6 separate regions of the Homo sapiens genome follow, and all the other regions are linked to region 1. The links come from fine-mapping of genetic effects on gene expression. A gene starts in region 1. Each other region holds a variant in brackets. All regions are shown on one strand. Distances are from middle to middle.

Evidence for each region.
Region 2: its variant is fine-mapped to the expression of D2HGDH in whole blood (TOPMed, PIP above 0.99).
Region 3: its variant is fine-mapped to the expression of D2HGDH in whole blood (INTERVAL, PIP above 0.99).
Region 4: its variant is fine-mapped to the expression of D2HGDH in fibroblasts (GTEx, PIP 0.97).
Region 5: its variant is fine-mapped to the expression of D2HGDH in whole blood (TOPMed, PIP above 0.99).
Region 6: its variant is fine-mapped to the expression of D2HGDH in whole blood (TOPMed, PIP above 0.99). The same link has a PIP of 0.9 or more in NK cells, T cells, Th1 cells and Th1/17 cells.

What each region holds. Positions count from the first base shown.
Region 1 is chr2:241,732,476-241,736,942 of GRCh38, reverse strand. D2HGDH (D-2-hydroxyglutarate dehydrogenase) reads right to left here and starts at 2,313. Exons shown (of 10, transcript NM_152783.5): 1 at 2,248-2,313; 2 at 1,427-1,810. The coding sequence starts at 1,718. RefSeq lists an enhancer at 1,247-1,486 and silencers at 1,527-1,636, 1,647-2,696, 2,737-2,786.
Region 2 is chr2:241,768,220-241,772,617 of GRCh38, reverse strand. D2HGDH (D-2-hydroxyglutarate dehydrogenase) reads right to left here. Exons shown (of 10, transcript NM_152783.5): 10 at 3,807-4,398. Among named protein-coding and RNA genes, the nearest start is that of GAL3ST2, 6.4 kb to the left of the region's middle. RefSeq lists an enhancer at 943-1,855. The variant C/T (reference allele first, on the strand shown) is at 2,465.
Region 3 is chr2:241,762,079-241,767,012 of GRCh38, reverse strand. The region is part of intron 9 of D2HGDH (D-2-hydroxyglutarate dehydrogenase); the gene reads right to left. Among named protein-coding and RNA genes, the nearest start is that of GAL3ST2, 12 kb to the left of the region's middle. RefSeq lists an enhancer at 2,116-2,729. The variant A/G (reference allele first, on the strand shown) is at 2,367.
Region 4 is chr2:242,084,719-242,089,652 of GRCh38, reverse strand. LINC03100 (long intergenic non-protein coding RNA 3100) reads left to right here and starts at 1,088. Exons shown (of 1, transcript NR_186294.1): 1 at 1,088-2,302. LINC01881 (long intergenic non-protein coding RNA 1881) reads right to left here and starts at 1,020. Exons shown (of 7, transcript NR_130702.1): 1 at 852-1,020. The variant A/G (reference allele first, on the strand shown) is at 2,255.
Region 5 is chr2:241,772,999-241,777,932 of GRCh38, reverse strand. GAL3ST2 (galactose-3-O-sulfotransferase 2) reads right to left here and starts at 1,111. Exons shown (of 4, transcript NM_022134.3): 1 at 949-1,111. The coding sequence starts at 977. RefSeq lists enhancers at 1-436, 437-1,057, 2,299-2,919. The variant A/G (reference allele first, on the strand shown) is at 2,127.
Region 6 is chr2:241,755,777-241,760,323 of GRCh38, reverse strand. It overlaps D2HGDH (D-2-hydroxyglutarate dehydrogenase), which reads right to left. Exons shown (of 10, transcript NM_152783.5): 9 at 4,310-4,475. Among named protein-coding and RNA genes, the nearest start is that of GAL3ST2, 19 kb to the left of the region's middle. The variant T/C (reference allele first, on the strand shown) is at 2,550.

The DNA.
Region 1 (4,467 bases):
ATGCCTGTCATCTCAGCACTTTGGGAGGCCAATGTGAGTGGATCACCCGAAGTCAGGAGTTCGAGACCAGCGTGGTCAACATGGTGAAACCCCGTCTCTACTAAAAATACAAAAATTAGCCGGGCATGGTGGCGGGCACCTGTAATCCCAGTTACTTGGGAGGCTGAATTGCTTACACCCAGGAGGGGAAGGTCGCAGTGAGCCAAGATTGCACCATTGCACTCCAGCCTGGGCAAAAAGAGTGAGACTTCATCTCCAAAAAAAAAAAAAACGGATAAACGGTCTTTGCAGATGTAATTAAGTTGACAGTACTGAGATACGATCATCCTGGATTAGGGTGGGCCCTCAATCCAATGAGAAGTGTCTTTATAAGACAACTGGAGAAGAGTCACAGAGAAGAAAAACCTGTATGAAAAACAGAGGCAGAGACTGGAGTAATTTGGTACCTGGGGCCACCAGGAGCTAGAGCTACAAGAGGCAGGAAGGAGCCTCCTCTGGAGGCTTTGGAGGGAGCGCAGCCCTGTGATACCCTGATTTCACACTTTTGGCCTCCAGAGCTTAGAGAACAAACTTGTGGGGTTTGGTGGGGAGGGGAATTCTGTTTTGTTTTAGAGATGTAGTCTTGCTCTGTTGCCCAGGCTGGAATGCAGTGGTGAGATCATAGTCCACTAAAACTGGAACTCCTGGGCTGGAGTAACTTTTTTACTTTTTGTTTTTTCAATCCTGGGCCGGCTACTTTTATTTATTTATTTTTATTTTTAGAGGTGAGTGGGGCGGGGGTTCTGGCTATGTTGCCCAGGCTGGTCTTGAACTCCTGGCTTCAGCCTCCAGGGCAGCTGAGATTACAGGCAGAGCCACTGCGCCAGGCAAACTTGGGTTGTTGGCAGGGCGGGGTGGCTCACGCCTGTAATCCCAGCAATTTGGGAAGCCGAGGCGGACGGATCACGAGGTCAAGAGATCGAGACCATCCTGGCCAACATGGTGAAACCCTGTCTCTACTAAAAATACAAAAATTAGCGGAACGTGGTGGCGGGCGCCTGTAGTCGCAGCTACTAGGGAGGCTGAGGCAGGCAAATCGCTTGAACCCGGGAGGCAGAGGTGGCAGTGAGCCGACGTCGCGCCACTGCACTCCGGCCTGGCGACAGAGTGAAACTCCGTGACTGCACTCCAGCCTGGCGACAGAGTGAGACTCCGTCTTAAAAAAAAGAAAAAACAAAACAACAACAACAACAAAACTTGGGTTGTTCTAAGCGACTCGTTCGTGGTCATTCATTCCAGCAGCCTGTGGCGGTGCACACGCCCCTCTCAGCGCAGCCAGGGGCTGGCACCCCCATCCAGGTTGTTCTCAGCCCGCTTTGAAGCCTCCACGGGAAGGCGCAGCGGAGCAGGGACGCGGAAACGCCGCAGCTTCCCAAGCCTCACCCACCTCGCAGCGTCCGCAACCAGTCCACGTTGGGAGCCTGCAGCGCTTCCGGGTCCGTGACGACCCCGCCGGGCACGATGCGCTCAAAGGCGGCCAGGTCCTGCTTAGACACCGTGGAGAACGGCAAGCGCCGCACGGGGTAGCGCTCCCGGGTCAGCGGCACCTCGGGGGTCCCCGGGGCGGAGCAGCAGCCTCTGCGGGCCAGGGGGCCAACCGGCCGACCCCAAGAACCCGCGGCTCCCGGAGCACCCCGCAACAGCCACGCGGGCCACGCCAGAGGCCGACGGGGCAGCATCGCCGCCGGGACGGAGACCTCGGGCTCCTCCTTGGTGGGGGGCCGGTACTCAGGGCCCGGAGGGGAAGGGCAGGGAGCCGCTGGCTGCGCGCCTGGAAGTGGCCAAGGGTAATTTCATGTTTTATGCACGTTGTACAAATTGAAACACGCTTGCAGAAGCAGGGAGGGGGCAGGAGGGCAGCGAAGGGAAGGCTCCGAGCACCCGGGCCCTCCCCCTGCCCGGGCCGCAACCCCGCGAGCGCGCGAAGCCCCACGCAGCAGGCCTGGACTTAGCGACGCGCAGGCTCGGGGCGGCCTCGCCGGGACCTTGCCCAGGACCCCGTTCCTCCGAGCTCGCCCCCCGAGGGGATCCCGCGGACGCGCGCGCGTGTTCCACGCGGTCACGTGACGAGCTGCAGCGCCGTCCCCCTCCCCCCACAGGCACCGACTGGCTGACGGCGCCCGAGATCGCGCCCCGCCACCCCGACCCGCGGCTGAACCGCAGACCGGGACCCTCAGCCCAGCGCTCCGCGCGGCCGCGCGCACGCACCCACGATCACGTCCCGAGCTCCAACCCGCAGCGCCCGCCGCAGGCCCAGAGCCGCCGAGCCGGAGTGGGCGGGGCGACGCCGCGCCTGCGCATTGACGGCTCCGCCCAGCGGCCGAAGCCCCGCCCCGCGCGCCTAACGGGCCCCGCCCCGCCTGCCCTCCAGGCCCAGCCCTGCGCGCCTACAGTCCCCGCCCCGCCGTCCAAGCCCCGCCCCGACTGGCACCGGAGGCTCGACGGCCACCGCCTCGTCCTGCGTTTCCTGAGGGCCTCCGGCGCGCCGGCTGTCGGGCGCATCCCTCCAGGTAGAGAAGGGACTAGGCTGAGCGCAGCCCAAGACGCCCAAGCAGCAGCTGGAGGGTTCTCCAGAACGAGGCCCGGGACGTGGGCTCGGCCGAGGGACCTGGGGGCCGGCCCGCTCCTCCGAGGCCGAGCCCAGGGGGCGCCCCTTTCCCCAGCGGCCTCCCCAGCTCCTGCACGGACCACCCCTCCTGGGTCCCCAGCCTTAGCTTAGGGGGCAGCTGCCTCCTGCAGGTGTTTTCTTGCCTCCCTGTCCCTTCTGCCTGTTCAGCCCTCCGTGCCCTCAAACCCTTTGCACACCTGGGGAGCTCCTGCCCTCCTGACGCAGTAACTGCTGTCCCGAGGAGCCTCCCGGCCTGGGATCCCCTGCCTGAGGCATCGCCAGCACTTGTTTTGTGTTTTTTTGAGACAGGGTCTAGCTCTGTTGCCCAGGCTGGAGTTCTGGGGTTGATCTCAGCTCACTGCAACCTCTGCCTCCCGAGCTCAAACCATCCTCCCACCTCGGCCACCCAAGTAGCTGGGACTACGGGCGTGCACCACCACACCCGGCTAATTTTTTGTTGTTGTTGTATTTTTGTAGAGATGAGGTCTCATGTGCTGCCCAGGCTGGTCTCGAACTCCTGGACTCAAGCGATCCGCCCGCGTCGGCCTCCCAAAGCACTTGTTACTTCAGCTCACCCAATTCCATAGAACCCTAGCGGGTGCAGAGGATGCCAATCTCTGAGCAGATGAGGGCAGAGAGCAGGAGACCACACTTGGCCCGAGGCAGGACTGCGGAGCTGTGCAAGAGGTGGAGGCTACGCCCGTGACAGCAGATGGGTCCTGGTAGTCACACAGAAAACCGGCGAGCTGGATTTGTCCTGGTGATGAGGCTCTGGAGCAGCAGTTGCAAGGAGTCATTCCTGTCCTCCTTAACCACATCCCCAGAGGCCACTCACCTTCTTCCCAGGTGAATCATTCATACAACCCTGGAAAGGAGACATCCACCTGGCCCTTCCTACCTGGCTGGCCCTTGCTCTGCAGATGAGTGTGGGAGTTTGCCCATTGTCAAGGGTAACTGTTGCAATTACACATTCAGGAACTGGAAAGACGACCACAGATGAGGTCTGTGGACCCCCTTACCACCTGACCTCCACACGCCCTCCCTTTGACTAGCAGGCCAGTGGCATCTTGGACCCCTGGGATTAGGAATGATTCAAAACCCATAAAGATTACCACCCATACCATCCCCTAAAATAACTGATTTTTCTGACCAGGCACGGTGGCTCACGCCCATAATACCAGCACTTTGGGAGGCTGAGGCAGGTGGATCACCTGAGGTCAGGAGTTCGATACCAACTGTGGGCGGCAAGCCACCCAGGTGCCGAGGCAAGAGACCGAAGACACGAGCTGTTCCAGTATAATAAAATAAGAATAGTTATACCAGATATAGATCTTAGATATGATTATATATGAATATCATTAATCATTAGTTGGTAGCAATTACTCTTTATTCCAATATTATAATAATCCTCGCTCTACAATCATAACCTAGGAAAAACCAGGCCATACAGAGATAGGAGCTGAGGGGACATAGTGAGGAGTGACCAGAAGAGTGCGAGCCTTCTGTTATGCCCAGACAGGGCCACCAGAGGGCTCCTTGGTCTAGCGGTGACGCCAGCGTCTGGGAAGACACCCGTTACCTAGCGGACCGTGGTCTAGCGGTAGCGAAAAGTGTCAAGAAACACCACCCGCTACTTAGCAGACCGGAAAAGGGAGTCTCCCTTTCCCCGGGGGAGTTTAGAGACGACTGTACTCCTCCACCTCTTGTGGAGGACCTGACATCAGTCAGGCTCGCCCGCAGTTATCCGGAGGCCTAACCGTCTCCCCGTGATGCTGTGCTTCAGTGGTCACGCTCCTAGTCCGCCTTCATGTTCCATCCTG
Region 2 (4,398 bases), 36 kb before region 1:
GTATAATAAAGAAAATAGTTGGAATAAGATTAGTCATAATACAAATTAGATATAGAGATGATCATGGACAATTATCAATCATTATTATAAACATTATTAATCATTAGCTTTTAATATTACTCTTTGTTGCATTTCATACTCCTCCTGTACTCCTGGTTCCTCTTTGAAGTTCGTAGCAGATAGCGGTAAAACAAATAGTGAAAGTCTTAAAGTCTTTGATCTTTCTTATAAGTGCAGAGAAGAAAATGCTGACGTTTGCTGCCTTCCGTCTCTGCTTCGGCTACCTAAAAGGGAAGGGCCCCCTATCCTGTAATCACATGACTTACTTCACCTTGTCAATCACTGAGAAGATTCACCCTCCTTACCCTGCCCCCTTGTCTTGTATGCAATAAATATCAGTGGGCCTAGCCCTCTGGGACCACTACTGGTCCCCGCGTCTTGATGGTAGTGGTCCCCAGAGCCCAGCTGCTTTCTCTTTCTCTCTTTATCTTGTGTCTTTATTTATTACAATCCCTCATCTCCACACACAGGGAAAACACCCGCTAAGCCCCGTAGGGCTGGACCCTACACCTCCACACTGCCAGGATCCTGATGGACGTCCTCAGGGGCCTGCGGCGTCCCAGGAGCCCCAAACCCCAAACCCTTCCTCTGGGCTCTAAGTCCACAACTGTCAGACACCTCTGGGTCCCAACCACTTGCCCTTCTGCTTACAGGAAACTGGCTCCCCCAGGGGCTCTCCCAGGGGCCAGCCGTCCTGGGGGAGGGGAGGGGCGGGCACTCCACTCTCCCTGGGGCTGAGACCACCCGGCCCACCCCTTCTCCCCTCTCCCCTGCTGTACACAGGCAGCTCTGGCCCTGCCTGGGGCCCCTCCCACCACTCTCCTGGCCCCCTCCTTGGCCTCAGCTCAGGGGCCCTGGTTGTGTAACATCTTCTCAGATTGCAGCAGCTTAGAGGTCTTAATGTGACAATCACCAGCTTCTAATCCGAACACAAAGGCCGCCCCTGAGCACCCACCCCGCCCCGACGACCCTGGCTGGAGCCGCTGCAGAATTCCGTCAGAACCCGCCAGGCCGGAGCTGCTGCGGAAGGAACGGGGCCAGAACCCGCCTTCCTCCCCACACACGTGCTCCTCATTGCTCTTTCCGCGTGGCTGCAGGCCTCGTCAGAGCCTCCGGCTGGGAGGTTGGGACGGCGTGGAATTCTCTGCGCGTCTCTTACACACACCTGACCACGGACACTCAACGCCGTCACATGGCCGTTGGGGGAGCTGTCTCCGGGGCACCAAGGCTGGTGGCCTGCCTCACGCAGATTCGCCGCGTTCTCCTGCGTCGGAGTCACTCGGAGTCTGTGTTAACCCGCGGGCTGCGAGAACACGGCCTGCCTGGATGCGATCGGGTCTCATCAGATTTTCCTGCTGTCAGGTAGAGAAATCTAACAGGTTTCCGGCTTGTGAAAACTCCTGGCCTCCCAGCCACCACGCAGTGTGGGTTTTCCTCATGGCAGACAGGCAGTTCTTCGGGCCAGCTCGGGCCAGCCAGGTGTCTCACCGGCACCTGCTTTGCCTGGCTGTGTTGTATTTCACATATCTAAAGGCACAAAAGAAAAGCCTGAGGGGGATCTAAGAAGCCCCTCTCCCCATTGCTGGATAAACTGGAGGTGAACATGGCAGGGCAGGGCAGCAGCGGAGACGGCAGGACCCAGCCACGGAGCTCCAGGAACAAGTGCCCACGGCTGGCAGCAGGGCTGTCATGGGCAGGACGTGCCCGGCACTGGCCTGCTCCGGCCCAACGGTCACCGCAGCCTCCTGGAGCCGGACCCCCAGGGAAGAGCAGCCGCAGCCTCTTCCTCCTCCAACAGTCCTGGACTGTGTCCGCTTCCCCAGTCCCCAGAGGCCCAGCGGAAGGCAGTGTGGATGCAGAGGTCTTGCTCTCCCAGGGTCCAGAGGGCACTAGGGGGAGGAATTCCTCCTCCCCCCTCTGCAGGCACTACCAGCGGGTGTCCCTCAGCAGGCAAGGCCAGGCCTCTGCAGCCCCACAGCCCATGCTGAGCCCAGATCCTCACGGGAAGCCCGGGGCTCTGGGCTTTTCCCTGTCACCCGGCTGGCCTCTCCAACAACAGGAGTGAGCATTTAGACCACGACCAGGGCCGGAGGTCCTTAGGAAAGCAACGGACCCCAGCTCTGAGAATCACAAGTCCCTACCCAGGGTGGGACGTGGGGTCGTGCGGCCAGCACGGGCAGAAGCTTGAAAGCCCCCAAGTCACCCCTGGGCCAGCAGCAGCCACCCAGGGCAGGAGGGCAGGTGCACAGCCAGGGTCAGCGGGTCAGCAACTCACCCTGGCCTGCAGCCTACCCAGCACGGACCATGTGCCCAGTAGCAGAGCTAGAGGAACAAGCAGAAAAATGGCCGGCCCCCAACCAGAGGTCAGAGGGAAGGGCAGGAGCCGCCGGCTGACCTCGGGGGA[C/T]GCGGGCACACGCTGTGGGGCTTCGTGTCAGGCACCCATGGGGCCTGGGGTCTGCTCTGTGCAACAGATACTGTCGGGCTGCCCATGGGTACCCAGCCTGGGATGGCAGAACAGTGGCCAGAGCCCAGGGACAGAGCCGGGCCTTGGCCAGTGAGGCAGGACAGCCCCAGGTGCCCCCAGGCACAGCAGGAAGTAGCCCAGGCATTGGGCGGGACCCACTGGCTCTGCTGGGCCAGCATGAAAGTGCCCCTGATTTGTGCCTTCAAAGCATGCTGGATCGGCTGGACGCAGAGGCTCGGGCCTGTAATCCCAGCACTTTGGGAGGCTGAGGTGGGAGGCCGCTGGAGGCCAGGAGTTCAAGACCAGCCTGGGCAACACAGGGACACCTCATCTCTACAAAAAAAAAAATTTAAAAATTATCTGGGCATGGCCGGGTGCGGTGGCTCATGCCTGTGATCCCAGCACTTTGGGAGGCCGAGGCGGGCAGATCATGAGGTCAGGAGATCAAGACCATCCTGGCTAAGAAGGTGAAACCCCATCTCTACTAAAAATACAAAAAATTAGCCGGGCACGGTGGTGGACACCTGTAGTCCCAGTTACTCGGGAGGCTGAGGAAGGAGAATGGCGTGAACCCGGGAGGCGGAACTTGCAGTGAGCCAAGATCGCACCACTGCACTCCAGCCTGGGTGACAGAACAAGACTCTGTCTCAAAAAAAAAAAAAAAAATTATCTGGGCATGATGGCTCACACCTGTACTCCCAGCTACTCAGGAGGCTGAGGTGGGAGGATCACTTGAGCCCAGGAGGTGGAGGCTGCACTGAGCTGTGACTATACCCCTGCACTCCAGCCTGGGTGACAGAGTGAGATCCTGTCTCAAAAAAAAAAAATCATGCTGGACCAAGGCCCCCACCCATCCCCCGAGGACCTCCACCAGGAGGACGTGGCCTGTCCACACAGAGGCCCTGGCTAGGCAGGCGGGCTCTGCAGGGCAGCGGGTCAGAGGTATGTTTCCCCCTCTGAGCAGGATCCGAGGTCCTCGACACCCACAGGGACAGGAGGGGCCCGTGGATACACCTCGGTCAGGCCCAGCTGCTGAGGGCCTCCAGGGCCACCAAGGGTTATGAGTTGCCCGTTCCATGTCCAGGCCTGCCCTGTGCAGCCGGTGGGAGCTCAGCTGCCACCAGACAGTGCATGGGGACAGGAGGCACAGTGACAGTCACAGTAGTGTCAGGCCCGGCCACACTATGGCCCCAGTGGTCCAGGGGCTGTGGGAATGGGATGCACAGGCCCTTCACAATGGGCTCTGAAAGATGATTTTCCAGTAACAGAAGCAAAGAGAAGGTTGCAACCAATTCAGATTTTTACTGGACATTCATGACAGAATGAGATGTGCATCCAGCTGCATCGCCCAGCCCATCCGCTGCCCAGGGCAGCTGACGAGCAGAAACACACTCTGCAGTGGCCCTTGTCCGTGCCGGGGCCCTCGCCCGCAGCACCGCACGTTCTTTGTAGGAGCAGAACCCGAAACTCAGAGCACAGCTTGCCCTGATAACTGTCTTCCCAGCTGGCAGCCCTCTAGAAGATGTGGGAAATGACACATTCCTGTCCAGACACAAGCCACAGTCACCCCCCTCCCGAGGGCGTCCACGGCCTGAGGGACCCGGCTCCATTCAGCAGAGCCGCAGCGCTCAGGTCCTCTCGGCAACCCACGATCACGGCCCACGTGGTCCTGCCCGTGCCCCCGCTGCCCACGCCCCCTGCTGCCCACGCATGCCCCCCGCTGCCCACGCATGCCCGGGGAACGAGCAGCAAGCAGGCAGAACCACCACCCAGCGCCTGCTCCCCAGGCCGCAGCAGGCAAGATGGGGCCAGGGGCCACCACGCAAGTGAGACCCACCCCGCTTCCACGTGGGCAAAGCTGCCGCCACCCCGGC
Region 3 (4,934 bases), 30 kb before region 1:
TCCCCAACTTCTCCCCCCTCTTCCTACTCCCTCAGCCCGGGGCTCCCATCTCCCCAACTTCTCCCCCCTCTTCCTACTCCCTCAGCCCGGGGCTCCCATCTCCCCAACTTCTCCCCCCTCTTCCTACTCCCTCAGCCCGGGGCTCCCATCTCCCCAAGTTCTCCCCCCTCTTCCTACTCCCTCAGCCCGGGGCTCCCATCTCCCCAAGTTCTCCCCCCTCTTCCTACTCCCTCAGCCCGGGGCTCCCATCTCCCCAAGTTCTCCCCCCTCTTCCTACTCCCTCAGCCCGGGGCTCCCATCTCCCCAACTTCTCCCCCCTCTTCCTACTCCCTCAGCCCGGGGCTCCCATCTCCCCAACTTCTCCCCCCTCTTCCTACTCCCTCAGCCCGGGGCTCCCATCTCCCCAACTTCTCCCCCCTCTTCCTACTCCCTCAGCCCGGGGCTCCCATCTCCCCAACTTCTCCCCCCTCTTCCTACTCCCTCAGCCCGGGGCTCCCATCTCCCCAACTTCTCCCCCCTCTTCCTACTCCCTCAGCCCGGGGCTCCCATCTCCCCAAGTTCTCCCCCCTCTTCCTACTCCCTCAGCCCGGGGCTCCCATCTCCCCAAGTTCTCCCCCCTCTTCCTACTCCCTCAGCCCGGGGCTCCCATCTCCCCACCTTCTCCCCCCTCTTCCTACTCCCTCAGCCCGGGGCTCCCATCTCCCCAACTTCTCCCCCCTCTTCCTACTCCCTCAGCCCGGGGCTCCCATCTCCCCAACTTCTCCCCCCTCTTCCTACTCCCTCAGCCCGGGGCTCCCATCTCCCCAACTTCTCCCCCCTCTTCCTACTCCCTCAGCCCGGGGCTCCCATCTCCCCAACTTCTCCCCCCTCTTCCTACTCCCTCAGCCCGGGGCTCCCATCTCCCCAAGTTCTCCCCCCTCTTCCTACTCACTCAGCCCGGGGCTCCCATCTCCCCAAGTTCTCCCCCCTCTTCCTACTCCCTCAGCCCGGGGCTCCCATCTCCCCAACTTCTCCCCCCTCTTCCTACTCCCTCAGCCCGGGGCTCCCATCTCCCCAACTTCTCCCCCCTCTTCCTACTCCCTCAGCCCGGGGCTCCCATCTCCCCAACTTCTCCCCCCTCTTCCTACTCCCTCAGCCCGGGGCTCCCATCTCCCCAACTTCTCCCCCCTCTTCCTACTCCCTCAGCCCGGGGCTCCCATCTCCCCACCTTCTCCCCCCTCTTCCTACTCCCTCAGCCCGGGGCTCCCATCTCCCCAACTTCTCCCCCCTCTTCCTACTCCCTCAGCCCGGGGCTCCCATCTCCCCAACTTCTCCCCCCTCTTCCTACTCCCTCAGCCCGGGGCTCCCATCTCCCCAACTTCTCCCCCCTCTTCCTACTCCCTCAGCCCGGGGCTCCCATCTCCCCAACTTCTCCCCCCTCTTCCTACTCCCTCAGCCCGGGGCTCCCATCTCCCCAACTTCTCCCCCCTCTTCCTACTCCCTCAGCCCGGGGCTCCCATCTCCCCAACTTCTCCCCCCTCTTCCTAATCCCTCAGCCCGGGGCTCCCATCTCCCCAAGTTCTCCCCCCTCTTCCTACTCCCTCAGCCCGGGGCTCCCATCTCCCCAAGTTCTCCCCCCTCTTCCTACTCCCTCAGCCCGGGGCTCCCATCTCCCCAAGTTCTCCCCCCTCTTCCTACTCCCTCAGCCCGGGGCTCCCATCTCCCCAAGTTCTCCCCCCTCTTCCTACTCCCTCAGCCCGGGGCTCCCATCTCCCCAGGCAGAGAGCGGCCACCTGAGTTACCGCATGGCCTGCCACTGCCTCCCTCCTGACCTGGAAGAGTCCAGACCGTCTTCCAGTCTGTATCCCCAGCACCTGGTCGGATGGAGGGGTCCGCAGTGGCGCCCAGGGCAGCTCTATCTGGACGCCCCCACCCCCATGGGTGTCGCCCCTGGAGCTGCCCAGCCAGTGCCCACTGCAGACAAAGTCCTGGCTCCCAGCTGCCTCCTCTCTGGTCCACTTAGCCCACACTGAGCCCCCAGGGCAGCAGCTCTCCAAGCACACCCTGGCCCTGGCCCGCCCCACGCACAACCTCCTCTTCTGACCTCAGAGGTCAAGAAGGCGACGGCTCAGAGAAGAGGCTGGGGACAGCCAGGGTCAGAGTGAAGTGAGGACCCCGCCCCACCTCCGGGCCAGCAGGAGAGGGAGCCAGAAACCAGCTCAAGGGCTGCCCAGACAAGGACAGCGGCTTTTAACGCAGAGCTGCACACCGAGGAGGAGCTCCAGAGGCAAACCAGGACGCACCACCCCAAACTGTGCCATGTTGGGGTGAGGGCTGTTTTCCCACAAAGGCAACTGAGAAGCGGCAGATCCAAGGAAAGCTCCCCC[A/G]ACTCAGGTCCTGCCTCAGAGCGGCACAGGAATGACTGACAAGGGCAAGGCCCCTCCCTCCACCAGAACCGACAAAGGTCGAGGCAGCTTCAGGCCCTGCCGTCCTCTGCCAGCTCCCTGCCTCCTCCGAGATGCCACCTGGAGACTCATAGTCCATGTCCTGTCATGTGACATCCCTAAAATTTGACTGTTTGTTGAAGACGCCACGTGGGCCTGAATTCACAGCCAGCTCTTTGAGAATCACTCATTCCCTGGCCACTCCCAAGTAGACGTGAAACATGCACGTCATGAGCCTCTGTTATTTCTCCTGTTAATCTGTCTGTAGCTGCAGGGTCCATCCCAGCTGGGAACTAGAAAGGGTAGACAGAAAACTATTTCTCCACCCCTACGAGAACAAACCCCAGGCAGGGAGTACAGCAGGGACCCCTCCCACAGTCCCCGTCGCCCCCCAGTCCCCGCCCCTCCCACAGTCCCCACGGATGCGTGCTCAGGCCAGAGAGGGCTGAACACATCCCCTGCCCGGGGACTTGCCCAGGAAGGACTGGTTGTGAAAGAAGAAAAACCACATCCACAGAATATGTTCATTTGGTTTTGTTTTTTTGAGACAGGGTCTCCCTCTGTCACCCAGGCCGGAGGGCAGTAGAGTGATCGTGGCTCACACTTCAACCTCCTGTGCTCAGTCAGTCCTCCCACCTCTGCCTCCTGAGTAGCTGGGACTGCAGGCATGTACCACCATGCCTGGCTGATTATTTTTTTTGTAGAAACGGCGGGTGGTCGGGGGTGGGGGGCCGGTCTCACCATGTTGCCCAGGCTGGTCTTGAACTCCTGACCTCAAGCAGTCCTCCCACCTCAGCTTCCCAAAGCGCTGAGATTACAGGTGTGAGCCACGTGCCTGGCGTCCACAAAGTATGTGAATACAGTCACGCTTCATAACAACGTTTCACCCAACCCCGGACCACAGAGATGATGCTGGCCCCATAACATTAAAATGGAGCTGAAAAACTGCCATCACCTTAATGACGATGTCACCATGTTGTAGCACAATTACTTGTTAATATCAGTTTAGTGTGGCCTCAGTGTGCAGCATTTATAAAGTCTAGAGTAGAGTACGGTCATCTCCTAGGCCTTCGCAACCCCTCACGCTCACCCACTGCCTCGCCAGAGCAACCTCCAGTCCCGCGAGACCCACTCGTGATGGGCACCCCAGGCAGGTGTGGCATTTTTACCTTTTATACCATACTTTTACGGTCCCTTTTCTAGGATTAGCTTTTGTGTTCAGGCACATACTCAGCATTATGTCACAACTGCTTCCGGCATTAAGTGGATGACAGCTGTGGTTTGTCACCTAGGGGCAATGGCTACACCACACAGCCTTGGTGTGGAAGAGGCTGTCCCATCTGGGTGTGAGTGCCCTCCGTGATGCTCACACAAAACGAAACCACCTAATGACACATTTCTCAGGACGCATCCCCATCATTCAGCAACACCCAACTGTATTCCCGAGCAACGGCGGCCTGCACCCGGAACTCACGCTGCCTCGGGTCCCAAAGGCTGAGAATGTGGAGATTAAAGAGGTTCCGGGCGGGGCCCCAGGCCCTCACCCTCCCCACCCACTGCAGAAGCAAACCACCTCCCCTGCAGGCCTCAAATAATTCCTACAGATAAAAATCTAACGAATATGAGCTCATGCCAAAAATCACACACACAAGAAGACAAACCACCACGGCTAAGGTCAGAATCAGACCCACAAACACCTCAGACGCTGTCATTTCCAGACACAGAACACAAACGTGTCATGTGTAAAGAAATAAGAGACAAAAATATAAAACCAAAAAATCTGACCAAGCAATTTTTAAATATCCACGCCAATCTTCCGGAGATGAAATGCATCATGGCTGGCCTGTGGACCTTAGCAGACAGATCTGACGGCCGATCACACACGGCAGAGAACGCCAAGCTGGAGACACTGCAAATAGCATCCAAACCTGAGAGGCGGGACCCTGGCAGCAGCCGATAAGAAACAAGGGGGCTTGGACTGAGTTCCAAGAGGAGAACAGAGGAAGGGGAGAAACGGTGTTTGAAGAGGCTCTGGTGGCTGAGGAATTTCTAAAGCCAGCAAGACCCCAAAGCCCAAGAAGTGCCAGGCAGGTAAACACTCACCCGGCCAACAGGCAGGTAAACAAACACTCATCTGGCCGACTCCCGGCCAAACCAGAGTGAAACCGCAGAACCCCAAAGACAATGGAAGGAGCTGAAAGCAGCAAAAAGGAAAAAGCAGGCTGGGCGCGGTGGCTCACACCTGCAATCTCAGCACTTTGGGAGACTGAGGCGGGTGGATCACGAGGTCAGGAGTTCGAGACCAGCCTGGCCAATATGGTGAAACCCCATCTCTACTAAAAATGCAAAAATTAGCCGGGTGTGGTGGCACACGCCTGTAATCCCAGCTGCTCGGGAGGCTGAGGCAGGAGAATCGCCTGAACCCGGGAGGCGGACGTTGCAGTGAGCCAAGATCGCACCACTGCACTCCAGCCTGGGTGACAGAGCGGGACTCCATCTCAAAAAAAAAAA
Region 4 (4,934 bases), 350 kb before region 1:
GTTTGAATAGACCCAAGGACAGAGGTGGAATCTAATTGAGAAAAAGGTCAAATTGAGCTTACTGTGAGGGGAAGGATGCAAAATTAGTGTCTGCTGCAAGAAAAATAAGCATGGAAAGAAATTAAGGGAGGAGACAGAGACAGAGCCAGAGCCACAGACCAGGAGTAGGGAAAAAAAGGTAAGCAGCAGACGGGGCAGAGTGGCCTGGAGGAATGAGGGGTCACACCTAGCAGGTGCCCACCGGCGAAGAGGCAAGGGCCGAGCCCGGAGGGCAAACGCCGGCAGGAGTCGTCCCCGAAACACCTTGCCCAGCGAGGCGGACACAAGCTCGGGCCTGCAAGACGGCCCAGGAGGGTGGGGGCGGGAAGGGGTCGCAGAAGGTGGGCAGGGGAAGCGGCTGAGGACACGCGATGCACCTGTGGGCGGTCCCCGTGCCCACCTGACTCGCCCGCAGCTCCCTGAATGAACCCTCCACACCCGCCGGCCGCCCCCAGACCCCACCTGACGCGCCCGCGGCCCATCGTCCCTTCCTGACGCGCCCGCGGACCCAGACCTCAGCAGACGCGCACGCGGCAATCCCGTCCCCATCTGACGCGCCCGCGACAACCCCGTCCCCACCTGACGCGCCCGCGACAACCCCGTCCCCACCTGACGCGCCCGAGACCCCCGGTCCCCACCTGACGCGCCCGCGACCCCATGTCTTCCCCTGACGCGCCCGCCGCCCCCGGTCTTCACCTGACTCGCCCGTGGCCCATCGTCCCCACCTGACGCGCCCGCGATCCCCAATCTTCACCTAAGGCGCCTGCGGCGCCCAGTCTTCACCTGACGCGCCCGCGGCACCCCGTACCTACCTAGCGCGCCTGCAGCCCCCAGTCTTCACCTGACGCGCCCGCGTCCCCCAGTGCCCAACGGGCGCGCCTGCCACCTGGGCCGGCACCTGACGGCGACCAGGCGATTATTGCCGGAAGTGGGCCACCGCCTCTCGGCGCGCCTCAGGGAAGCCCCGCCCCTGGCCATGCTGATTGGCCGGCGCGGATTCGCGTGGCAGTGTTGCTGCCGGGTCCTGACGCCCGCAGCGTGCGCCTGCGTAGTAGGCACTGCCCCGCCGTCCGCGCGCGCCCAGAGTGCCGGGCGTGGAGGTGTGGGGGCGCGGGGGCGCGGGGGCGCGGGGGCGCGGGGGGGCGGGGGCGGGGGGGCGCAGGGACGGGCGCGGTCAGTGCCTGAGATCCCTGCGATCGCTGGGAGATGACGGTGAAGACCTGAGATTTAGGCCTGCGCGGCGGGTGACGACGCCGGTCCGGGTCTTCACTGGAGGACGCTGGCCGGGGCCTTCAGGTGTTCTCGTGGCCTGAGGACGCGCGTCCCTGAGAATGTGCGTGCCCGCGCCGCGCGGGTCCCACAGGAGCCTGGGCAGCCCCGCCGCCGCATTTCCACCCTGCGGCCGTATTTCCACCCGCTGGGCGCCAAGCCCGGGATGACTGCACTCTAGGGCATCACTGCGCGCTCACACTCAGCATTCAGGCACAAGCACGTTCTCTTTATAAACAGTTTCGAATCTTGTCGAGTCTTTCTAGAAGGTTGAAATGCCCTGGAGGAGCAGCGTGAATAGTTTTTTCCAATTAGGAAAAAAGAATGTGGGGCGGCTGGAGGGAGAGAGGCAGGCCGAGAAGGCCAGGTGCGTCCAGGAGCCGCAGCCCCCGTGCCTCAGTTTCCTCCTAGAAACATGGAGGTGGCGGTGCACGCTACAGGATTTCTGTAAGAACAGATGAGTTAACGTGTGCAAAACATTTAAAACAGTGTCTGGTGTGTAGCAAGCAAATATGAGTATTAGTCTTTTCCTTGTTAAAATGTGTGCATCTACATTTGGTGCACATTACAGGAAGTGTATAGTATGGATTCATATTTTGGAAAAGTAATTTTAGAAGTTATTTCTGATGTGCTTATTGTAATAGTGTTTCTTGACCACATGCTTTTAGATAATGTGAAGGCAATGAAGCAGGCAATATTGCTTGCACATCCCCAATTTAAACACCTGTCTGTCCCTCCTTCCCTCTCTCCTTTCTTTTCTTCCTTACCCTCTCTCTTTATTCCTTCCTTCATTCCCTTCAAGGTTGCGGATTATTCCATTATATAAATGTATCAATTTATTAGAATAGTTTCTATGATGTCTATGATGGGCTTTAGATTGTTTGCAATAGTTTGCCATTACAAATAATGCCCAGTAGTGCTGTGGTTTGATTTAACTTGTGAAGGT[A/G]TATTTCCAAATAAATCGCTATGATTGGATTGTTGTGTAAACCAAAAAGTGTCTGAGGCAGATCACAACTGATATAGAGGTTTATTTTGCCAAAATTGTGGATTTGCCTGGGGAAAAAGAAACACAGGTTACAGTAGGATTTTTGGCCTGTACTTTTTTCCAAATATTTAAGGGAAAAGCGCCGGTAGGAGGGGAAAGAGGGGAGAGTAGGCTATGAGGCAAGTGGTCACATTTTTGTGAGGCTCTGATTAGAGTACAGCAAATCTACATTTCACATGTGAAAAGAAAGGTATGGGGGAGGGTTATACATCTGTCTCATACTCAGTAGATCTACATTTCACATAAGATAAAGTAAGCTTTTGGGAACAAAAAGAAGGCATGTATGTGTGTGTGTGTGTGTGTGTGCGTGTGTGTGTGTGTGTTGCCAATATTAACTTTTCCCTTTGGCATAGTAAGTTTGGAGGCCTGAGATTTTATTTTTCTTTCACTGATGTGTCAAGATTAACTGCATATGGAATACTAGTAGAAATTGCCAAGCCAAGACCCCACCACCACAATAGGGGACATAGTAATATTAAATTTAGCCCAATTGGCCAGCATCCACACAATTCCTAGTGAAAGAATTCCTGGCTGGATGGTAAAGAGGTAAACTAACTGCAGAAACTCACAAAGCAACAAAAGAAGTCCACAGAATAAGAGCAGGAATTCAGAGAGTAACCACAGAGAGATCCACAGAGTAACAGCAGGAATTCACAGAGTAACAGCAGAACCCACAGTGTAACATCAGAGCCCACAGAGTAACAGCAGAGCCCACAAAGTAACGTCAGAACCCACAGAGTAACAGCAGAGCCCACAGAGTAATGTCGGAACCCACAGAGTAACACAAGAGCCCAGAGAGTAACAGCAGGACACACAGAGAAATAGCAGGAACCCACAGAGTAACATCAGAGTCCACAGAGTAATATCAGAACCCACAGAGTAAAAACAGGACCCACAGTGTAACATCAGAGCCCACAGAGTAACAGCAGGAATTCACAGAGTAACATCAGAACCCATAGTGTAATAGCAGAGCCTACAGAGTAACAGCAGGAACCCACAGAGTAATAGCAGGAACTCAGAGTAACAGCAGAAACCTACAGAACAGGATCAGAAACCCATGGAGTAACAGCAGGAAGCCATGAAGCAGTTCTGTCCAACTTAGGTCAGCATATTCATGGTCTTGGGTCTTCTTTGTGTGTGCTTTCTACCAGGACTGGGCTTAGCTCTGTGCTTGTGAAGAGTAACCCACTCAGTGCCCTCTGAAATTTCGCCACTGGAGGAGGAGAAAAACCCCAGAGGGGCGGGGAGAAACGCTTTTCAAAACACATGGTGCAGCTGGAGATTGTGGTGCAGTTGCCCAGGCAGAAGGCTCGGCAGGGGGAAGTAGTGACCAGGAGGGAGGTGCCTCCTTAACCACAGAGATTTTTTGGCAACCAACTTATTGAAAAATCACGTTTTAAAATTTTCTTTAAGTCAAACCCTACAGAACCTAAGGAGCTGGCTCCTCCTGGCAGGAAGCTGGGAGAGTGCTGGTCACAGTGCACCAGGTGCCCCCTGCCTCACAGGGGCTTAGGGTGGTGGTGAGCACAGGGGCCCCACGCTTCTCCAATGCACACCACACAGTCGTCTCCTCTGACCTTCCCAAATGCTGCACGGACAAGTGTTTGTAGTCCCTAACTCTCAGGACAATGTAGACTTGGTATACCTTCGGGCACGGGGAATCCCATCCTTCTTCCTGTTCCTGCCGCTCTGAAGCATGTGGTGTATGTTTAATGGGGATTTTACACAATATGGGAAGACCACTTCTGCTTTCTATGCAGTGATAATACTGCAATAAGAAAAAATGAACCAAGCCACCAAAACAAAACAGTACCACCTGATGCAGAACTAGGAGGGAAACACAGCAGTGTCTCAGAGCTAATGCAGCAGCCAGGCACCACGACGGTGTCATGGGTACAAGGAGGAGGTGTCTCAGAGCTAATGCTCTGTGCTGACAGCAGCCAGGCACCACGACGGTGCCATGGGTACAAGGAGGAGGTGTCTCAGAGCTAATGCTCTGTGCTGACAGCAGCCAGGCACCACGACGGTGTCATGGGTACAAGGAGGAGGTGTCTCAGAGCTAATGCTCTGTGCTGACAGCAGCCAGGCACCATGACGGTGCCATGGGTACAAGGAGGAGGTGTCTCAGAGCTAATGCTCTGTGCTGACAGCAGCCAGGCACCACGACGGTGTCATGGGTACAAGGAGGAGGTGTCTCAGAGCTAATGCTCTGTGCTGACAGCAGCCAGGCACCACGACGGTGTCATGGGTACAAGGAGGAGGTGTCTCAGAGCTAATGCTCTGTGCTGACAGCAGCCAGGCACCACGACGGTGCCATGGGTACAAGGAGGAGGTGTCTCAGAGCTAATGCTCTGTGCTGACAGCAGCCAGGCACCACGACGGTGTCATGGGTACAAGGAGGAGGTGTCTCAGAGCTAATGCTCTGTGCTGACAGCAGCCAGGCACCACGACGGTGTCATGGGTACAAGGAGGAGGTGTCTCAGAGCTAATGCTCTGTGCTGACAGCAGCCAGGCACCACGATGGTGCCATGGGTACAAGGAGGAGGTGCCTGGTTTTCGGGAGCTTGCCATCTGAACAGAC
Region 5 (4,934 bases), 41 kb before region 1:
CAGAGTCTCAGCTGGGGTCAGGCACACCCGCCCTGGCCGACCTCGGGGGGCCCCAGGGCAGCCAGGGGGGCCCTAGCTTGGCCACCAGCTAATCAAGTGAGCCTGATTCCCCAGCCCCTGGGCCTCTTCTTCACAATATGGTCACAATGTCCACAGGAGGGGGCATCTAGGATGGTCCAGGCCAGGCAGCCGGCCCCACACCTCTCAGCCCTGTGACGGGGTGTCCTCAGCCAGTGTCCTGGCAGCTGGTCTTAAGTCACCCCTTAAAGGAAGGTAACTGAATTCATGGCGGCACACGCCCCGGGGAGGCAGGGACCTGCCAGCGCAGGGACGGCTTCAAACTGCCCTGGAATCACCCCAAACAGGATGGCGAGCAGGAGAAGGAAAACGCAAGGCATCCTTAGCCACACCCACCACCCCTCCAAACCTAACTGGGAAGAAATCCACCTCCCCTCTGTTTACAGAAGGGAGACAGCACAGCAGAGCCCAGCCTCCCCGTCACCACCCAGAGCCCCGGGAGCATCCTGAAGCGCACGCATGACCAACGCTCCAGCAAGCGCCTGGCACTCCCACCAACACGGCCCAGCCATGGGCCTGAGCCGCAGACCGAGGCTGGGAGGTCCCAAGCCCAGCAGGTCTCACCCTCCCCAGCCGTCACGCGGACACTCGAGCGTCTCCACGCCACAGTGTTGGGGGGCAGCTTTCTCACTGGGCCCCACATCCCAGAACCCCCAAACACCCAGAAGCAGCACCAGGCCTGGGCAGGAGGGGCCCCCTACTTCCGAAACGAAGCCAAGACAGGTGAATTCAGGGAAGCCTGAGTAGGAACAGCCTCCAAATCCAAGTCACTTCCTTCGAAAGACAAACAAAACCCACTCCTGTCCGTCTCTCAGAATAGCCACAGATGAAGCGCTTTGTCCACCTGGGGGGTCCAACTGCCCCCCTTACCTCTGCAAGCCGCCCAGCATGGACATCATCTTGGCCTCTGGCCTCCAGCGAGGGGACAGTCGAGGCTTGAGCTCCCCCGAGGTCCCACCGCCTCGGCCCCTGCCGGCTCTGGGCTCCCCAGGGTGCAGGCACAGGCAGGGTGCGGCTGTGGGGCAGGTGAACTGGAATCCCCAGAAGCTCACCTGCCTCCTGGGACGGGAGCCACGCCCTCTCCCCGCACCTCCATCGGAGGGCTTGGTTTTAACTGTTCTGTTCTCGGGAAGAACTGGCTGAGGGAGTCTGGGGAGCCCTCGATGGGCCCCTGTGTTCCCCAGGCCCTGGGAGGACCTGCCTGGGGCCTACCCCTGCTCCCCTGCCCCACCCTCAGTGTCCATCCCCCCGGGGGGCTTGGAGGGAGCTGTCCCCACAAGGGACGGGCTTGGTGGGCTCCAACAGCACAGCGACGGCTTCTGGACTCAGAACTCAGGACCTGACGCAGACGAGAGGGCAGAGGGCCCTGTGGCCACTGCAAGGATGAGCGAGGAAAGCTCAGCCCAATTCCCAGCTTCCTCCCCCTCCTCGTCCTCCTCTTCTTCCTCCCCCTCCTCCTCCTCCTGAGCCTGCTTCACACCAAAAGAAAATCTGACTTTTTAAAATCTTGGGCTGGACAATAAGTTTGAAACAGGACATGGAGGTGGAAAATAAATATAAATATTTGTTTAGATTTTACTGCAAGAAAGTTCATTTCTCTTTTCAGGAAATAGATATTAATTCCGAGACAAGCAGCCAGGGAAATGCTGCAACATTGTGACCAGGCGCTACAGTGAATCCACAGGAAAACGCAAATGCTCCTCAGAGCTACGGGCCACGCGCCATGAGTCACCACCACCCTCGCCACATCCCACCAGCGCTGGTGCCCACCATGCCCTCCGACGCCAAGCTCTCCACACGGCTGGTCACCTTCCCACAACCCCTCCCTGTCGGTGCCAGCTGAGCCTGGATTCCGGGACTGGCCCCAGCCCAAGGCAGCCTCCCTGCCCTAGCCAGTGCCTGGCTCGGATGGGTGCAGGCCCCATAGCCATGGAGGCAGAAACAAGGCTGGGCTGAGGGGCTCAGAGGAGGGGCCGAGCACACATGGACCTCCCTGGCATCAGAGACCCTGGGCTGGGCGGCTGCTGGCGAAAGGCCCAGAGACCCCC[A/G]GCCTCCCTTCCCCATTTACCTCCACCTGCAGCCCAGGGGCCTGGCATCTCCGCCCCCGCCTAGGCATCACCCTCCCAGCTGCTCTGTAGACCTCCAGAGCCCGAGTCTGTGGGAGGGGCCAGCAGAGCAGCTCCCGGTGCTAACGGCAGGTGGGAGGGATGCCGGGGCCTTGCTGGCACGGCTGGGCAGCTCTCCACCGGCGTGCCCTGCATCCTCCGCATTCCACTATCCAGAGACATCCGTGTGGGTGTTCACTCCACCATTAAGGAGCCTCCCTGCTGCTTCCTCCACCCACCCTGCCCAGGGCACCACAGGCTCAGCCTAGGAACAAAGAAGATGGCGCCTCATGGGTCCTTACCCCAGAATCACCTTGGCCGAGCCATGTGTTACAAACGGTGGGGCCGGTGGAGAGCAACCTGCCAGGGACACACGCCTGAGGGTCACGGCCAGGCACCTCCCTACACACGCCTGAGGGTCACGACCAGATGCCTCCCTCCCAGGTCAAAGTCCCCAGCTCTCCAGATCCCAAGTGACTTATGGGGCCTGAGCAAGAAGTGTGGGCCTGGGCAGGGGGTCCTCAGCCACCAGCCACCTTCACCCCCTGCTGGGGCAGACAAGGGCAGTGCAGTGTGGTGTGGAGCGGTGGTCCCAGCCCCAGGCTGGGAAAGGGACGGAGGCCCGGCGGCCAGAGGGAGGAGGCTGCCTGTTGCCAGTGGGGCCCTGCTGGGAGCCCCAGGGAGTCAGGGTGTCTGCCCGGCCCCAGCTCCCCGCTAAGAATCAGCCGCTCTGGCAGCCTGCCTGGTCCACGGTGACTCAGGAACACCAATCAAATGCACACGTTGTTTGTCAGAGCAGATGCCCACGCCCCCATGGCAGAGCCCTAACCCCTGGGGTGCGGACGGGGCTGGCTGGAGGCCCCTCAGCTGCTTCGAGTAAGGGACAGGTCCACATGCCCAGGAACCCGCCTCCATCGGCATTGGCATTGCCGTGCCCATGTGCTCCAGTGTGTGGCCTGGTCCCACTAGGAGGGCCACACCCACCAGACCCAAGGCCGGTGGGGAGCAGCTGGGGAGCAGCCGGGAGCAGCCGAGAGCAGCCGGGAGCAGCGGGGAGCAGCCGGGGAGCAGCCGGGGAGCAGCCGGGAGCAGCGGGGAGCAGCCGGGGAGCAGCCGGGAGCAGCCGGGAGCAGCCGGGGCGCACGCACGTTACCCTCTTCAGCCGACACTGCAGGCGGGCGGGCAAGCCCAGGGCCACCTCGGGGCAGGGGCAGGGGTGGCCTAGCTCAGAACAGAGCAGTCAAAGGATGGAGTCAGCTTCTAGGTCTCAGATCCCGGGTCCGGGGCTGCAGGAAGGAAGTCTCCTGCCCCGGGCAGGCAGTGGTCGACTGTGGGCTGGGCGCTGGCAGGAGGTGGGGGCCCTACAGAACTCCCGGCCAGTCCTTCACCAGTCCAGGGCCACCCATCCGCCCACGTCCACAGAGGGCCGAGGCCACAGCCCCCAGCACTGTGCTTTGAAGTGGGCCCTGCTCCACGGTCTCTGCTTTCCGGAGTCAAGGGGCAAACCCTCACCACCAGGAAGAACAGGTTTCACCCCTTCCACCGGTGACGCTGAACACCCCTGGCCGCTGTGCATCCCATTCCCTCCCTGTCCCCAGGGCCCCAGGGCCCCAGGGCCATGGAACCCGGAAGGTAGCTCCAGGTGCCACACACTCTGCCAGAAACAAAGGGAGCATCACCTCGCTTCCTGGCCTCTGTTTGCACAGCCGCTGGCACAGGGCCTGTGGGGAGGGGCGAGGCAGGAGCCAGGAGGCCGTCTGAGGACCTGCCCACAACCCAACAGGACCCCAGCCCTGTCAGGCCGCACCCGGGCACACCCAGGAGGCACCTCCGTGCCCGTCCGCCAGGCCGGGCACTGTTCTAGAAACTTCACAGCAACTCTTGATCTCCCAGAAGGGCAGGTGGGGAGACAGGGCCCATGCTCCCTCGAGAGGATCCCCCTCTGGGGGTGGGTGCAGGAGGGCAGAGCCTTTGACTGGGGCTGCCAGGACCATGACCCCCACCAGCCCTTGTGGCCTCCTGGGTCCTGCCCTGGTCTGTCCTCCCCACACCCCTGAGGTCCAAGGGGCAGTGCTGGGGAGCACTGCCAAGGGCTTGCGCCCGCCCTGGGTCTAACCGGCTAACAAAGCGAGGAGGGGCCCGTCCCGGGGCCTCAGCCTGGGAGCAGACAGCCGCCCCAGCTCCTTGCCTGTGGGGTCCAAGGAAAAGTGAGTGGGAGGGCTCAGGTCTGTGATGTTCCACCAGGAGGAACCCGGCCCAGGGCCTAGGTGTCAGGAGGGCTCTCCTAAGACAGCCCCGAGCTTCCCAGCCCCTCCACCTGCCCCTAACCCTCAACTCAGGCTCCTGGTCCACCCCAAGGGCCCCCAGCCCTCCCCGTCCCAGGCAGCGCCACATTCTAGCAGCTATTTGCTCTCGGCCTCCCTGACCAGCTCCTTTTTATTTTTCCAGAGAGGGTCTCGCTCTGTCACCCAGGCTGGAGTGCAGTGGTGTAGTCACGTGGGGCTCCCCACAGCCTCGACCTCCTGAGCTCAGGCTTGTCCCTCCTCCCCTGTAAGAGCCTCCTGTAGCTGGAACTCTAGGTGCATGCCACCACGCCTGGCTATGTTTAATTTTTTGTAGAGGCAGAGTCTCACCATGTGTGCCCAAGCTCTTCTCAAACTCCTGGGCTCAAGCAATCCTCCCACCTCGGCCTCTCAAAGTGCTGGGATTCCAGGTGTGAGCCACCGCGCCCGGCCCTGGACCAGCTCCTCG
Region 6 (4,547 bases), 23 kb before region 1:
ATTGGGTAAGGCCCACCCACGCTGTGGCGAAGTCCTTCGACTGATTGGGTAAGGCCCACCCACACTGTAGCAAAGGCCTTCGACTGATTGGGTAAGGCCCACCCACGCTGTGGCGAAGTCCTTCGACTGATTGGGTAAGGCCCACCCACACTGTAGCAAAGGCCTTCGACTGATTGGGTAAGGCCCACCCACGCTGTGGCGAAGTCCTTCGACTGATTGGGTAAGGCCCACCCATGCTGTGGCGAAGGCCTTCGACTGGGTAAGGCCCACCCACGCTGTGGCGAAGTCCTTCGACTGATTGGGTAAGGCCCACCCACACTGTGGTGGGAGATCTCCTGTACTCAACGTCTACTGATTTAAATGTTAATCACACATAAAAAATATCTTCACAGAAACATCCAAACTGGAGTTTGACCAAACGAGGGTACCAGGGCCCAGACAAGTGGACGCAGAGAATTCACCATCACACATTATTTGGGAGGAAGATAGTGACTCTGATTAACCTCAAACCCAGAGGGCTAGAAATGTCCACTGTGGTGCCAGGGCGACCACCAACAGTTAGTAAACGGCAAAAAGCTAAATGACAAAGAACATAAACCAGAAGAGCAAAAAACAGAGGAAAAAATAGACAAGAAGTGAGAGACAAAGAGCAGGGTGAAGTAGACAAATCCAAACAGTGGGCCACAGCACGTGCTCAGCAGCCAAACGCTCTCATTCAAGACGGCAAACAAGTACGCAAGAAACCTGTCCGGGGGCGTCCACAAGAAACACATCTAAATCACTAAGGATGGAAAAGCTGAAGCTAACCGGAGGAAAAACAACACATCAGGCAAACACTAAATAAAAGAAAGTTAGCATCACTGTGTAATAAACAAAGCAGACACCAAGGCAGCGGGCAATGCTGGAGATAAAGAGCGAGTCCATCGCGTTAGGAGATTCAGTTTCCCAAAACAAAGAGACGAACCTCATGTCCTATGCCCCTAAGAACACGTCTCCAGAACTGGCAAAGCTACAGGAGGAACAGATTAGTCTGTTGTCAGCAGATTTCTAACACCTCCCTCAGGGAGTGGCAGGTCAGCAGGATGTAGAATGAACACGCGACGTATACTTCTATCTGATGGATCTGTACAAACACTGATTCCAGCAACTGCAGAGAGCACATTCTTTTCAAGCACTCCACAGTTACGAAGGCTGATCATAAGCTGCCACTGATCAAGTTTCAAAAATCTGATCTGATAAGGACGAAGTTTCCTGGGTATAATGCAATAAAAAAGAAATCAATAATTTTTAAAATAACTAGAAAACCACCACGTTTGGAAATTAAGAAACACACTTCTGCATAACTCATCGGTCAAAGAAGGAATGATAATGCAAGCAGCAAATAATGCCAGGCACAGTACCTCACGCCTGTAATCTCTGGCTTTGAGAGGCCAAGGAGGGAGCATTTGCTTGAGGCCCCGGAGTTCAAGACCGGTCCGGCCACACAACTGGCTCTACATGAGTCTGGCTCTACACACACACACACACACACACACACACACACACACACACACATATATTGTGGGGCGGGGGGCGGTATAGATCAGATGTCACTGTGTTGCCCAGGCTGGTCTAGAACTACTGGACTCCAGTGATCCTTCCAGCCTTGGCTTCCTGAAGTACTGAGATTATAGGCGTGAACCACTGCACCGGGCCTACAAAAAAATTTTTTTTTAGTTAGCCAGGCCTGCTGGTGTGTGTGAGGTGGCGGGCCTGCTTGATCCCAGAAGGTCGAGGCTGTGGTGAGCCACTGCACTCCAGCCTGGGTGACAGCGAGACCCTGTCCCCACCAAAAAAAAGGGTGTGGGGGCATCCCACAAATGCTACATAAAAAGACAACAAAAGAATATTCGAACAACTTTATGCCAATATGGGAAAAAATTAGCAATACCAATCTAGAAGAAAGGAAAGCTTGAAAGTCCTAAAGCTATTGAAGAAGCTGAGCTATAATTTTAAAATACTCCCTCAAAAAAACCTCCAGGCCCAAACAGCTCCACTGGCAAGTTCTGCATAATATTCATGTTATGATTTTGATACCAAAATCCAGCATGGACAGAAGAAAGGAACAGCGTGGAACAGAATCATCCACCAAGACCCCTGTCAAAATCCCACACCAAACATAAACAAACTCATCCAGCAAGATACAGAAAGGATCATGGCCACCTTGGGCCTACCCCAGAAACACAGACTCATCTGACTCCAGAGGGATCAATCAGTGTAACTTACCACACTGATTACAGGCAGACAAGCACCCGGTCACCATGACAGATGCAGGAAACACATTTTAAAAATTCAACATTCATTCTTGCTTTTTTTTTTTTTTTTGAGATGGAGTTTCACTCTTGTCACCCAGGCTGGAGTGCAATGGTGCAACCTCTGCTCACTGCAACCTCCGCCTCCTGGGTTCAAGTGATTCTCCTGCTTCAGCCTCCCGAGTAGCTGGGATTACAGGTGCCTGCCACCATGCCCAGTTAATTTTTTGTATTTTTAGTAGAGGCGAGGTTTCATCA[T/C]GTTGGCCGGGCTGGTGTCGAACTCCTGACCTCAGGTGATCCACCCGCCTCAGCCTCCCAAAGTGCTGGGATTACAGGCATGAACCACTGCGCCTGGCCCATTCTTGCTTTTACAAAGTAACAGAGGGCTCATTCCATTTCTCACCAAGATGGTCTGCTTTATCTGTGGCCAAGAGAGACTGAAGTTACCTGGAGAGGAGGAAGCCTCCTCCTGGCTTGAGGTCATATTCTGAAATATTGGGGATCCCGTACCCCTCTTCTCTGGATGATGACACACTCATCATGCCCTTAACCCCTTCCCATATTCTGAAATATTGGGGCTCCCGTACCCCTCTTCTCTGGATGATGACACACTCATCATGCCCTTACCCCCTTCCCATATTCTGAAATACTGGGGCTCCCGTACCCCTCTTCTCTGGATGATGACACACTCATCATGCCCTTACCCCCTTCCCATTCAGGAGTCCTGCCTTCCTATCACAGAAGATTACCATCCATCCTATGTCAAATCCTCCAGATGTACCCCTCCACAGGCTGGGCAACTTTGGGCAAGTTACTTAAATTCTCTGAACCTGTTTACATGTGTGTAAAAGGGAAGCAACACCACCAGTCCTAAAAGCTGTTGTGCAGAGAAGTTTCTCCACATCAAGTGCTTAGAATAATGCCTGGGACAGCACGGGACCTTCGTAAGTAATACGTGTTATTGTCGTCACGTACACAACCCTAGACCCTCCTGTAACCACAGAGGTGGCACCTGAATCCCATTTACTGGCAGATGGATGGAGGCTTCAGGTCAGTGACTCCAGTGCCACCAGGCCAGGGAAGAAGCCAGAGTGAATATCTGTCAGGCCCCAAAGCCATGCTCCACACCCCCAGCACTGCCCCCACCCCTGCCCTATAAGCTGGCCTTTTAGACACCTCGCTCCAAGGCTCCAAAGAACTGACAGGAAAACAGCTGGGCACGGTGGCTCACTCCTGTAATCCCAGCACTTTGAGAGGCCGAAGTGGGCAGATCACCAGAGGTCAGGAGTTCAAGACCAGCCTGGCCAACATGGCAAAACCCTGTCTCTACTAAAAATACAAAAATTAGCCAGGCCTGGTGGTGGACGCCTGTAATCCCAGAGACTCGGGAGGCTGGGGCAGGAGAATTGCTTGAACCCAGAAGATGGAGGTTGCAGTGAGCCGAGATTGCGCCACTGCACTCCAGCCTGGGTGACAAGAGTGAAACTGCGTCTCAAAAAAAAGAACTGATAGGATTGAAACATTTTCTTCCTATGAATTAATAGCTTACACGTTAAAGCATGATTTTTCTGCAGAAAAAAGATGATCTGAACGTGGTTTTGAAATCCTCCCATCTGAAGGGGTAGAGCAGCTGGGGGCTAAGCACTGCAAAGGCCTCGGGGCCGGGCCCTGTGAGAGGAGCCCCTGAGACCCGCATCCCGGACTCCGGGGTTAAGGCTGATGCCCTCCAACCCTGCATGCCACTGAAGATCCCAGAACGTTCTGACAAGCTGAGCCATGCGCTCTGCCATTACAAGTGCACGATGGCAGTCTTTTCCAAAATACTCAAAACGAGTCATGACAACGATTAGGATTTTCCCTTCCCTGTCAGACACCGTGGTCCTGCCAGTGTCTACGGGAGATATGCTAAGCCAGAGACCATGGTCAAACTGCCCTGCCTCGAAGCCTGGCAGGGTGACGGTGACCGTGGGGCCCACCACCCAGCACACACAGGGCCGCGGCCCCGGGGCGCCGCTCACCAAGGTGGCCATAGCCCACCACGTGCTTGGCGTGCGGGCCGAGGCGGGCGCGCAGGTCAGTCACGATGTCGTAGAGCCGCTCCACAGGGAGGGAGAGGTCGTACTTGTACACGTAGCCATCCCGGCTCAGCGCCTCTGTGATCCTTTCCCTCAGGGCCCACAGCATCTAGAGGATGAGACGAGATGAGACAAGGGCTGGCTATGGGAACGACACCCGGGGACAGGGGGCACACCACAC